2 linked regions of the Homo sapiens genome follow. The protein of the gene in region 2 interacts with the protein of the main gene of each other region in a pairwise test. Each region holds a gene or a part of one and is shown on either strand. Other genes may lie near its edges. The genes, in order: CERT1 and CSNK1G2.

Region 1 (5,476 bases), on a different chromosome or scaffold from region 2:
AACTACACTGAGAGAGTATTTTTCACCTAATGAGTTGGGAAAGTTATAAAGTTTTGTTTTACACGTTGTATGAAAAACTGTGGGACACAGGGACTCCAATTCATTATTGCTGTTGAGATGGTCAATTACTATAACCTCTATGAAAAGTAGTATCTAAATTATGCACAAACCCCTAGCAGGGCCAGTAGTACCACATCTATTAATTTTCCCACATATAAACTTGCAAGTACAAAATGACATATGGATACAATTATGACACTGCTCTGGCAGAAATTGGAAACTGTAATATTCGCCAATGCAGAACTGATTAAATAAATTATGTACATCTATACAATGGGATACTGTATAACCATCAAAATGAGGAAGCTCCTTACAAATATGTGAGACCTTCAAGATAAAATAAATGCAAATATAAGATGTTGAACAGTGTTTATAGTATGCTGCTGCTTCTTTAACAACAAAAAAAGTGTATCTGTGTAGAAAATACACTTGTATTTGTTCATTCAAGCATTAAAAACTTTCTAGAAGAAACTAGTAATAGCATATGTTAATACTATATGGTGAATGCAAGACAGGGTAAATTTTACTGTATAACTTTTTCATACTTTTGACTTTATTTATTTATTTTTTGACAGACATTACCTGTCCAGGCTGGAGTGCAGTCGTGTAATCACAGCTCACTGCAGCCTCAAACTCCCAGACAAAGCGATCTTCCTGCTTCAGCCTCCCAAGTACCTAGGACTATACATGTATACCACCACGCCTAATTGTTTTTTGTCAAGATGGAATCTTGCTATGTTATCCAGGCTAGACTTGAACTCCTGGCCTCAAGCCATTCTCCCACCTCAGTCTCCCAAAAAGTGTTGGGATTACAGGTGTGACCCACTGCACCTGGCCACTTTTGGCTTTTAATCATGTTAACGTATCACTTACTTTAAAAAGTTAAAGATTTTGGGCTGAGTGCAGTGGCTCACGCCTGTAAACCCAGCATTTTGGGAGGCCCAGGAGAGCAGGTCACCTGAGGTAAGGAGTTCGAGACCAGCCTGGCCAACATGGTGAAACCCTGCCTCTACTAAAAATACAAAAATAGGCTGGGCGTGGTGATGGACGCCTGTAATCCCAGCTACTCGGGAGGCTGAGGCAGGAGAATCGCTTGAACCTGGGAGGCAGAGGTTGCAGTGAGCCAAGATTGCACCACTGCACTCCAGCCTGGGCAGCAAGAGAGAAACTTTGTCTCAACAACACCAAAATAAAGTTAAAGATTCTACCTCTTTGCATAAAGGTGTTCAGTGCTGTACTGGTTGACAGTAAAAATATGGAACCAACTCAGACATTAACATGGGACTAGTTAATAAATTCTGCAACATGCATGTAACAGATGTTAAAAGAATGAGATGTTTTACACATCTCATGTCTTATAAAGAAAGATAGTCAAGATACATTGTTAAGTGAAAAAAAGGTTATAAAACAAGAATTTTGTATAATAGTAAGTATAAACATTTTAACATTCAAAAATATGTCAGTACATACACAGAAAAATCTGGAGGAATATACAACAAAAATAACAGTTTCTGGGAAAGGAAAGAATACAGGAAGTTTGCACTTCTACAATTCTACAGTTCTATAATATCAAAATTTCTTTACATAAGCATTAGAAGAAAAAGGAAACAATAAAAGAATTAAGTTTTAAAGGCTATAAACTACAATTTTCAAGGCCAGGCACGGTGGCTCATGTCTGTAATCCCAGCACTTTGGGAGGCTGAGGCAGGAGGATTGTCTGAGGCCAGGAGTTCAAGACCAGCTTGGGTAACATAGCAAGACCCCTATCTCTACAAAAAATAAAAAATTAGCTGAGCATGGTGGCACATGCCTGTGGGGACTCCCAGCTACTGGGAAGGCTGAGATGAGAGGATTGTTTGAGGCCAGAGGTTGAGGTTGCAGTGAGCCGTGATGGTGTCATTGCACTTCAGCTTAGGAAACAGAGCAAGACCCTGTTTAAAACAACAACAACGACAACAACAAAAACCAACGAAACAATACTCTATAGGGGAACATCAAAAAACATAGTAAATACTTTCAACAACTAAATTTTAGTATTGACAGTCATATTAGTCAAATAAAGTTAAAAAAAGATAAAACATATCTTCTAGTACCTGTTAATACTAGAACAAAATAGGCTTTCCTGCAGTTTTTTCTTGGACGTAAGAAGTAAAACGTTTTAGAAATTTAGGATACTCTCGCTTTGCCACTGCCCTTAACACTGAGGCTGGTGCCCATCCTCCAGGGTTCACTGCAAGATAAAGGAAAATTAAAATGTATTAAGATACAATTCTCCAAACATATGTGAAGCACTTAATTTGTTCCCTTGTTTTTAAAATATTCCTCACATTGGACCAATTAGCATCTTTTTTTTTTCTTTTTGAGACGGAGTCTTGCTCTGTTGCCAGGGTGCAGTGCAGTGGCGCGATCTTGGCTCACTGCAACTTCCGCCTCCGGGGTTCAAGTGATTCTCCTGCCTCAGCCTCCGGAGTAGCTGGGATTACAGGTGCACGCCACCATGCCCAGCTAATTTTGTATTTTTAGTAGAGATGGGTTTTCACCATGTTGGCTAGGATGGTCTCGAACTCTTGACCTCATGATCCGCCCGCCTCAGCCTCCCAAGGTGCTGGGATTACAGGCTGAGTCACTGTACCCAGCTGGACCAATTATGATCTTTTAAGTCCCAACCCTTCATTCCTTAACACTATCCATCAGACATAATCAGACAGCAAATAAGAAAGCATCTATAACCTTTCTACAATGTTCTTAGTTCCCGAAATTACCTGCAAAAATTAGTATAGCACCACTTAAGGTTATTTAGGGCAGATTATTCACAAATCTGTACTATAATGAAATAGTAACTTACTCAGGTACAACTGTTTCTTTGAACATACTAGCAGTTATGGCCCTGTATAAAGAAGGTATGACTTTTGATGAGAGAGGTTGCAATGATTACTCCAGGTGCAAAGCAGGTGAAGTAAGGACCCAAAGCAAGCAATGAAAAGACCTATCCAAAGTGAAACAAATATATGTAACTAGCAACTAATAAGGACTAGGGAAACGCTGACTCAGAAAACAAAAAGCCTGACAATGAATGTCAAAGAGAAATAAATATGTAACTAGCAACTAATAAGGACTAGGGGAACATTGATTCAGAAAGCTAAAAAGGCTGACAATGAGTAAAAGAACTCTTAATTTCCTTCCCCACTGTTGCTTATATTCCTAATAATAAATCTGTTCTATGAGGCAAATATCTAAGAAAATGGTGCTTAATATGAAGGCTAGGTCGAGCGCAGTGGCTCACGCCTGTAATCCCAGCACTTTGGGAGGCCGAGGTGGGTGGATCACGAGGTCAGGAGTTCAAGACCAGCCTGGCCAAGATGGTGAAACCCCGTCTCTACTAAAAATACAAAAAACTAGCCAGGCGTGGTTGTGGGCACCTGTAATCCCAGCTACAGAGGCAGAGAATCGCTTGAACCCAGGAGGCGGAGGCTGCAGTGAGCTGAGACTGCACCACTGCACTCCAGCCTGGGCAACAGAACGAGACTCCATCTCAAAAAAAAAAAAAAAAAAAAAAGAAGGGTATATACAGTGACCTAGGGATAAAGTTTTAAAATTTTCCTATCCAGCTCTAGCTTCAGAAATACTCATATAGTAGTAGTTCCAGGGTGAAATTCAGACATCTGTACTTTCAAAGATTCTCTAGTAATTCTGATATACCTTTCTCCAAATTAAAAATTAGTAATCTAATGGATAAGAACTAAAAAGGCATTTGTCCAAATTGTTGTCATATAGGTCATGATCAAGAACAGCCACATTATCAAAGAGCAAAAACAATAAAATACATACCATTAGCTACATATGTAATCTTGCATAGAATGTTGTCCCTGCTAATTTCCTGGTTTCCCTCTGGTGGGCTTACCAAGGTTTGACAAATCATAGCAACATTTATTTTGGCACGGACACATCGGTTGTTTAGCTGCCAAAACAAAAAACAAAGCATCAGTAGATACCCAGTATTTTGTAAACTCTGCTGGTCTAATATTATATTAGGTTAACCAAAATCGTAACTCTTAAAAGTATCTCCAGTGAAATCTTATAAGCACCAAGCTGATATGACACCAGGATTCCTCCCCACCCACTTTTTCTGGGGACAAGGTCTTGCTCTGTTGCCCACTCTGGAGTGCAGTGGTGCCATCATAGTTCACTGCAGCTTCAAACTCCTGGGCTCAAAGCAATCCTCCCGCCTCAACCTCCAGAGTAGCTGGGACCACAGGTGCACATCACCAGGCCTGGCTAATTAAAAAAAAAAAAAAAATTTTTTTTAATAGAGATGGGGTCTAACCATGTTGCCCAGGATCCCTTCCTCTTAAGTAGTAAATGGAGCTAAATTGTGGTAAACCACAGAGGTTTGGCTGGCAGTTGATAACGGCTTAAGAGATAACTGTGGGAAGTAGCCTACTGCCCAGTGTATGTACTGCCCTTTTGGCTGTTTCACGAAACATTAGAAGGAAAGGTAAACGGCCCTGGTGGAATGTTCATAGGCATGACTGTTGCCCTCAGACAACACATGGGCTATACTGTTCCTAGCAGTCAATCCAACATAAAATCTAAGAACCATTATCAAATCAAGTATAGTGTATGGGCTGTGTTTATCATTTTTGTCCCGCATTGTGTATTTAGCTTTATATTGTTTAATTATACACATTTATATACATGTACTTACAGGAGCACTGTCATGATCCACAGAAAAATTACAAACTATCCAAGTTTCAGGGTCATTTTCAGTCAAGGCTGGTATCTTTCGAATGACAGAAAGATATAATACGTCTCGCTGAGAAGCAGGCCACACCCTCTGTGGAGAAGTAAAAATCTTTTGAAAAACAGATCTAACATGGAACTAACAAGAGAAACGTAATGCCAATAAATGTCTTAATTGAAGGTAAAATCTCTCAAATTTTAAATGGAAAGCATCTGAGGATATCTACCAAATGATTAATTATGAACAGAGTTAATAGCTTTGCAGAACAATATAATAAAAGGAATAATGTTCTATTTTTTTAATTGCAGTAAAATATATACACGTATAATTTGTCATTTTAACTAACTTTTAGGGTACAATTCAGGGACATTAATTACATTCACAGTGTTATGTAACCATATTGCTATCTCTGAAATTTATCATCATCCCAAACAGAAACTCTGTACCCAGTAAGCAACAACTTTCCATTCCTCTCTCCTCATACTCCATGATTATGTTCTACTTAGATTCAAAGATTTAATGAAAAAAGACTTATTTGAATCAAATCACATTAGAAAGAATTCTAAGTCACTTAGATTAAATATTTCAATATTAAGGTATGCAAGGGGAAACATATACTATGGGAATGACATGGAGCCTAGGTCTTCAATAAATGGGACTACCTACTTTAAATGA
Region 2 (7,121 bases):
CTTGAGCCCCTGCCAGGGGAGGCTGCCGCGCAGGAAGTACATGAACATGTGGCCCAGCGCCTCCAGGTCGTCGCGGCGGCTCTGCTCTGCGGGGACAGGGGCGCAGCCTCAGCGGGGTCCGGGCGCCCGCCCCCCGCCGCGCGCGCGCAGCTCACCCTTGCCCAGGTGCGTGTTGATGCTCATGTAGCGCGCCGTGCCCGTCAGGCTCTTGTGCTCGCGGTACGGGATGTGCTTCTTGGTCTCGGGGTCGATGTACTCCTTGGCCAGCCCGAAGTCGATGATGTGGATGGCATGCTGCCGCTTGGTCCCCGGGCGGCCCACCAGGAAGTTCTCGGGCTTCACGTCCCGGTAGATTAGGCTCTTGGTGTGCACATACTCCATGCGCGTGATCTGCAGGGGGGCACGGCGGTGTCGGCCGGGCCCCTCCCCGTCCCACGCGCTCCCCTCCAGGGCCACCCTCTTCCCTCCGAGCCCCGCCCCGCCCCGCCCGCCGCGCACCAGCTGGATGGCGATCATCAGCACCGTCTTGAGCGTGAAGGTCCGGTCGCACAGGTCGAACAGGTCCTCCAGGCTGGGCCCCAGCAGCTCCAGCACCATGGCGTTGTACTTCCCGCACGGACCGAAGTAGTAGACCTGAGGGACGCCCTCTGCGGCGGAGGACAGACGCACGGGCGTGCGGCGGCAGCCCCCTCCCTGCCCCTGCGCAGCCCCCGCCCCACCCGCGGGCCGCCCGGTACCTGTGGCGCTGAGCTGCTTGTAGAACCGGTACTCCAGGTGCAGCTGCGGGGCCCGGGACTTGATCGGCTCCTGGGGGCACAAGAGCGAGTCACCAGGGGACCGGGTCGCTGCCCTGAAATCCCTGGGGGGCACGTCAGCGGGGGTGGGGTGGAGGGGCCGACTCACCAATTTGATAGCCACGTATTCATTTGTATAGAGATTCTTTCCTGCGGGGACAGAGACCATCAGCACCGCCAGCGCAGGGCCCACCTAGCCCCGACCTCCCCAGCCCACCCCCGAGGCAGGAGGCAGGAGGGGGTCCCTGAAGGACCACCCTCCAAATGACACCACTGCCCAGCAGCAGGGCCTGGGCCCAGCCTGCCAGAGCACTGCACCATGGCCTGCCAAGTCATCCCGACACCTGCACCCTGCCCGTGTGGTCACCGCCTCAGTGTCTGCCACTCCTCCTCCCCCGCCCCCCCACCTCCCTAGCCCAGGACAGAAGCGGCACTGGGGAGGTCTCTCACGGCCTGCAGGCAGCCCCAAGGGCTCCACACTCCTCCACCCCTTTCTCAAAGACAAATCTCCCACATGCCCGAGGCCCTCGGCCCCCAGGTGAGCCCCAGCACAGATGGACAGGGACCTGTGGCCCACATGGGTTAGAAGAGAGGAGCCCAGGTCCTGTTCCCTGGGGCCACCAGCCACATAGGACTTCCAGGGCTGAGTCTCATGAAAGCGCAGAAGGTACGAGGCCCAGAACCTTTTTTTTTTTTTTTTTTTTGAGACGGTGTCGCTCTGTTGCCCAGTCTGGAGTGTAGTGGCGAGATCGCAGTTCACTGCAGCCTTTGTCTCCCAGGCTCAAGCCATCCTCCCATCTCAGCCTCCCAAGTAGCTGGGACTACAGGTGCGCACCACCACACCCAACTAATTTTTGTATTTTTAGTAGAGACGGGGTTTCTCCAAGTTGCCCGGGCTGATCTTGAACTCCTGAGCTCAAGCGATCTGCCTGCCTCAGCCTCCCACAGGGCTGGGATAACAGGCGGGAGCCCCTGTACAGGCCAGGGTGCAGCTTTTTACATGTTACACCCCCTGAGGAAGGAGGCGGCCAGCCCTTAACACAGAGGCGCTCTGCAGGGGCAGCTGTGGAAGCCGGCCTGGGAGGGGGCACGGCCCCACCCACTGTGGTGACTCAGCACCCGAGGGGTGAGCCTAGAGGTGAACAGGCCGGTCCCTGCAGGCACACGGCCCTGGAGGGCTCCCCACGGCAGCTGGGCCAGACGACAGGCATGAACGTGTCTGGCACCCATGTGTCTCCAGCCCAGGATGGCACTGGGGCCATAGCTACCATCTGCTGGGCGACCTGTCCCGCGGCATGACAGGGCACCATGTGGGGCAGCCCCGTCTCTCAGGCACCATCCAGCTGGGTCACCGTGTTGGGTCTGCAGTCAGCTGCCTTTGCCCGAGTAGCATACGCTGCAGAATGAGGCCTCTGTGGCCGGGCACGGTGGCTTATGCCTGTAATCCCAGCACTTTGGGAGGCTGACGCAGGCGGATCACCTGAGGTCGGGAGTTCGAGACCAGCCTGACAAACATGGAGAAACCCCATCTCTACTAAAAATACAAAATTAGCCTGGCATGGTGATGCATGCCTGTAATCCCAGCTACCAGGGAGGCTGAGGCAGGAGAATTGCCTGAACCCGGGAGGTGAAGGTTGTGGTGAGCTGAGATGGTGCCATTGCACTCCAGCCTGGGCAACAAGAGAGAAACTCTGTCTCAAAAAAAAAAAAAAAGAAAGCAAGAAAGAGGCCTCCACTTTGTTCCGCCCTGCTGCAGCTGGACTGGCAGGGTGGCCGTGGAGACAATGGGTTTGGAAACCCTGCTAAGGTGGATTCAAAGTCCCAAAGCCCGGTGGCTGAGCTGTACACAGTCATGACCTCATAGTCTGAGGCTGGGGTCCCACCTGGGCCCTGAGAGCCTCTTCCCCCGGCTAGTGCCCCGTCCTGGGCGTGCCTTGCAGCACAGGAATCGCTGGGGCTCCTTCTGGCACTGCCCTGTCCGCATCACTACCTGGGCTCTATTTCAGCACAGTTTCCAATCAGCTTGTCAAGTTCCCTAAACAGCCTCAACAACGTGGCATCTTGAGGGTGCAGGATCGTGAGGACGAGGGAAGACCAGGTGCCTCCCTGCAGCCCTGAGCCCGGGACCAGGGCTGGTCTCTCCAGTCCTGAGCCAGGGACCAGGGCAACCCCTCCAGTCCTGAGCCGGGGACCAGGGCTGGTCCCCGCGTTTTCAGAACAAATGGGCTCCCCTCCTACGTTCTCCCCAGTGTAACACGTTATTAGGAAATTCTCCTCGTAAAACAACAGGAGCCGTGCCCCAAACACCCAACACTCATTGCCGAGGCCCCAGAACTAAACCTGCCACACGGTCCATCCTCACAGCTACCATCCACCGGTCCATTTTATTTTTAGAGGGATTTCAAAGTTTTTTTCTTTTTGGAGCAGAGTCTCGTTCTGTTGCCCAGGCTGGAGTGCACTGGCGCGATCACGGCTCACTGGAACCTCTGCCTCCTGGGTTCAAGCGATTCTCCTGCCTCAGCCTCCTGAGTAGCTGGAATTACAGGCAGGCACCATCAACCTGGCTAATTTTTGTATTTTTACTAGAGATGGGCTTTCTCCATGTTGTCCAGGCTGGTCTCGAACTCCTGACGTCAGGTGATCCGCCCACATCAGCCTCCCAAAGTGTTGGGATTACAGGCGTGAGCCACTGTGCCTGGTCAGATTTCGAAGTTTTAGAGCTCAGGACACTGCCCCAGGTTTGAAGTTTTAGAGCTCAGGACACTGCCCCCTGAATCAGCTGCAGGTTCAGTCCAGCATTTGCGTGTCCTTCCTGCGCTGCCCTTCGGAGGTGGGATTCACAGTGGATTCATCCCCCCTTCCCCGCCCAAAAGGCTGCCCCTGCGGTGGGCTCCTCGCCGTGTCGTGCTGCGTGTGCCCGCCTGGTGCTGTGCCGCGGCTCACAGGGAGGATGGGGTTTGGTTTGCCCATCTGCCCTTGAGGCACGCCCTCCCGTCTCCAGTTCTGACTCTCCAGAGCGGAGTTCCGGCGAACACGGCTGTGTAGCTCTTCCTGCGGGCAGCCGTCCCCTTCTCCGGCAAAGTGTCAGTCACGTGCTGACCACCAAGCACTGAGCTGCGCTCCCCCAGGCTGAGGAGGACAAGCCCTCGCCTGTGTGCTACACCGTCCCTCTGCTGTCTGTCGATGTATCATCCAGCTGTGGCTCCCTGACGGGCAGGCGGATGCTCGCCAACGTCCTCCCCAGCCTGGCTGGCCTCATGCTCTTGGCAGCGTCTTGATGGGCGGGCCTTTGAAGCTCTGATGCATCTGATGGTGATGGGGTCCTTCCCGGCTCTTCTACTCTGCACTGTGGAAGAAACCTTCGCCTGAACCCCACCGCTGTGTGCGGCTGGCGTGTCAGAGACCTGGGTGTGTGCTGGGTGGGTGTGGCAGCATCTGAGGCCTGTGGATCTGCAGACTCCTGGAGGAGGTCGGGCGCTCTGGGCTCTGAAAGCCAAAGGGGCCTCCTCCGGCAGTACTCGCGATGCATGCAGAGGGCAGGAGAGCCCACGGGGCCTGGCAGAGAACAGCTCCAGAGAGGCTCAGGAGGTTCCGGGGGACACACAGGAGGGAGGACGCCACAGCTCCAATGGCCGGAGTGCGGGGTCCTCCCTGGATTCTCTACTTCAGCTGAGAACCCAAAAGGTCCACACCTTGGCACAGGGCTCCCTGGCCTTGGAGTCGCTCATGTTTACCCTCAGCCTTGCCCCAGCAACGCTGAAACCAACCTGACAGAAACAAGGTGAGCCACGGGGACAAACTCAGCGCTCAAGCCGGGAGACGGCACCCTCCACACCTCACGGCACACACCACGGCCACGCCCAGTGAGGCTGTCCCACAGGTGAGTGAGGGAGGTGTGACCGTGACAAGGGAGGAAGAAGCAGCACAGACGTCACTCCACACAGTGCTGTGTCTTTGATGCACCCCCCAAGGGTCATGTGTTGGGAACCTGGTCCCCAATCCAGCACTGCTGGGGCTGGGGCTGGGGCCTAGAGAGAGGATCTGAGTCGCTGCCCTCGTGGATGAGTGAATGCCATCAGCAGGGGAGTGGGTTCCTGACTAAAGGGCGAATCCAGCCCCCTCCGGTCTGTGCCGTCCTGCCTTCCACCATGCCTTCTTGCCATGACATGGCAAGAAGGTCTTTGCCAGACGCCACCCTCAATCTGGGGCTCACCAGCCTCCAGAACGGTGAGCCCATCAATTTCTGTTCATTATAAATGATCTGGCCAGGTGCAGTGGCTCATGCCTGTAACCCTAGCACTTTGGGAGGCTGAGGCAGGTAGATCACGAGGTCAGGAGTTTGAGACCAGCCTAGCCAACCAACACACAGTGAAACCCTGTCTCTACTGAAAATACAAAAATTAGCTGGGTGTGGTGACGGGCGCCTGTAATCCCAGCTACTCGGGAGGCTGAGGCAGGAGAATTGCTTGAACCCGGGAGGCGGAGGTTGTGGTGAGCCAAGATAGTACCACTGCACTCCAGCCTGGGCAACAGAGCAAGACTCCATCTCAAAAAATAATAAATAATAAATAAAAATAAATGACCCAGTCTGTGGCATTCTGTTACAGCAGCACAAAATGGACTAAGAAACAGCACAAACATGTTCAAAGATTTAAAGGAAAAGATGGCCAAAGTGAATGTGCACATGGGAAATCTCAGCTGAGAGCGAATGGACAATCAGACGAAACCGAAAAATGCCACTAAGCAATCAAAGATTCACCACATGGACTTCTGGGGTTGGAGGCTGCAGAAAAAGAGTAAACTTTCAAGCAGCAGCAGCAGCAGCCGCACAGCCTGACACCAGGAGAGCACAGAGGCAGACGGAAAACAGCCAGGGCTGAGGGACCTGGGGACAGGGCCAAGCACTCCTGTCACACGCAGAACCAGAACCCAGGAATGAGAGCAAGGCTGGGTATGGTGGCCCACGCCTGTAATCCCAGCACTTTCAGAGGCCAAGGCGGGCAGATCACCTGAGGTCAGGAGTTTGCCAACATGGCAAAACCCTGTCTCTACTAAAAATACAAAAATTTAGCTGGGCGTGGTGGCAGGCACCTGTAATCTCATCTACTTGGGAGGCTGAGGCAGAATTGCTTGAACCCAGGAGGCGGAGGTTGCAGTGAGCCGAGATCGCGCCACTGCACTCCAGCCTGGGCAAGAGAGTGAGACTCTGTCTCAAAAAACCAAAGCAAGGCCAGGCGCGGTGGCTCACGCCTGTAATCCCAGCACTTTGGGAGGCCGAGGCGGGCAGATCACGAGGTCAGGAAATGGAGACCATCCTGGCTAACACGGCGAAACCCCGTCTCTACTAAAAATACAAAAAATTAGCTGGGTGTGGTGGCGGGCGGCTGTAGTCCCAGCTACTTGGGAGACTGAGGCAGGAGAATGGCACGAACCTGGGAGGCAGAGCTTGCAGTGAGCTGAGGTTACGCCACTGCACTCCAGCCTGGGTGACAGAGCGAGACTCTGTCTCAAAAAAAAAAAAAAACAAAGCAGGCGAGGCGCGGTAACTCACATGTGTAATCCCAGCACTTTGGGAGGCCGAGGCAGGTGGATCACCTGAGGTCAGGAGTTCAAGACCAGCCTGGCCAACAAGGTGAAACCCCATCTCTACTAAAAATATAAAAAATTAGCCAGGCATGGTGGCTCACGCCTGTAATCCCAGCTACTCGGGAGGCTGAGGCAAGAGAATTGCTTGAACCCGAGAGGCAGAGGTTGTGGTGAGCCGAGATGGTGCCACTGCACTCCAGGCTGGGCAACAAGAGTGAAACTCCATCTCAAAAACAAAACAAAACAAAGCAAAGCAAAGCTGAGATGGAAAAACGTTTCATGAAATAATGGCTCACATTTTTCCAAAGTTAATTTGAAAAAGTACCAACACAGAGATCCAAGAAGTCAGTGGATCCCAAGCAGGATAAAAACAGAAAGCCTCATCTAAGGAGAGCATAGTCAATATTTTAAATCAAAGATAAAAACCTTAAAAACAGAAAAAACGACACATTCTAGAACATTCTAGACAACGGAACAACATTCAACAACCGGAGTCCACAACAGGCTCAACATCAAAGCCACCAACAGTCCTGAGTGCTGGGGACGTGGAGTGCTCGAGGAGCCCAGTGCTATTCAGTTCTATTTGGGCAGTTAGTTCTATTCAGAAGGGCCCAAATCCAGAAACAGCCAAGCGTCCCTGCGCTGGGAGCAGATGAAGAAGGGCTGGTGTGTCCTCCGATGGACGGCCTCCCGGCACCCCTGAGAAACCACGATGTGCGGCTGCCCGCGAAGCACACAGCG

The links.
Region 1: the proteins of CSNK1G2 (region 2) and CERT1 interact in binary tests that used the Homo sapiens proteins (3 or more experiments, as listed by UniProt).

The regions. Positions count from the first base shown.
Region 1 is NC_000005.10:75,377,184-75,382,659, forward strand, and holds the end of CERT1 (ceramide transfer protein), read right to left. Parts: intron 4,895-5,476; coding exon 4,766-4,894; intron 4,019-4,765; coding exon 3,889-4,018; intron 2,291-3,888; coding exon 2,163-2,290; 3' UTR 592-2,162; downstream 1-591. UniProt on the Homo sapiens protein: Shelters ceramides and diacylglycerol lipids inside its START domain and mediates the intracellular trafficking of ceramides and diacylglycerol lipids in a non-vesicular manner.
Region 2 is NC_000019.10:1,972,128-1,979,248, reverse strand, and holds part of CSNK1G2 (casein kinase I), read right to left. Parts: intron 4,141-7,121; exon of another isoform or gene 3,178-4,140; coding exon of another isoform or gene 3,135-3,177; intron 945-3,134; coding exon 904-944; intron 808-903; coding exon 738-807; coding exon of another isoform or gene 648-737; coding exon 499-647; intron 391-498; coding exon 156-390; intron 87-155; coding exon 1-86. UniProt on the Homo sapiens protein: Serine/threonine-protein kinase. Casein kinases are operationally defined by their preferential utilization of acidic proteins such as caseins as substrates. It can phosphorylate a large number of proteins. Participates in Wnt signaling.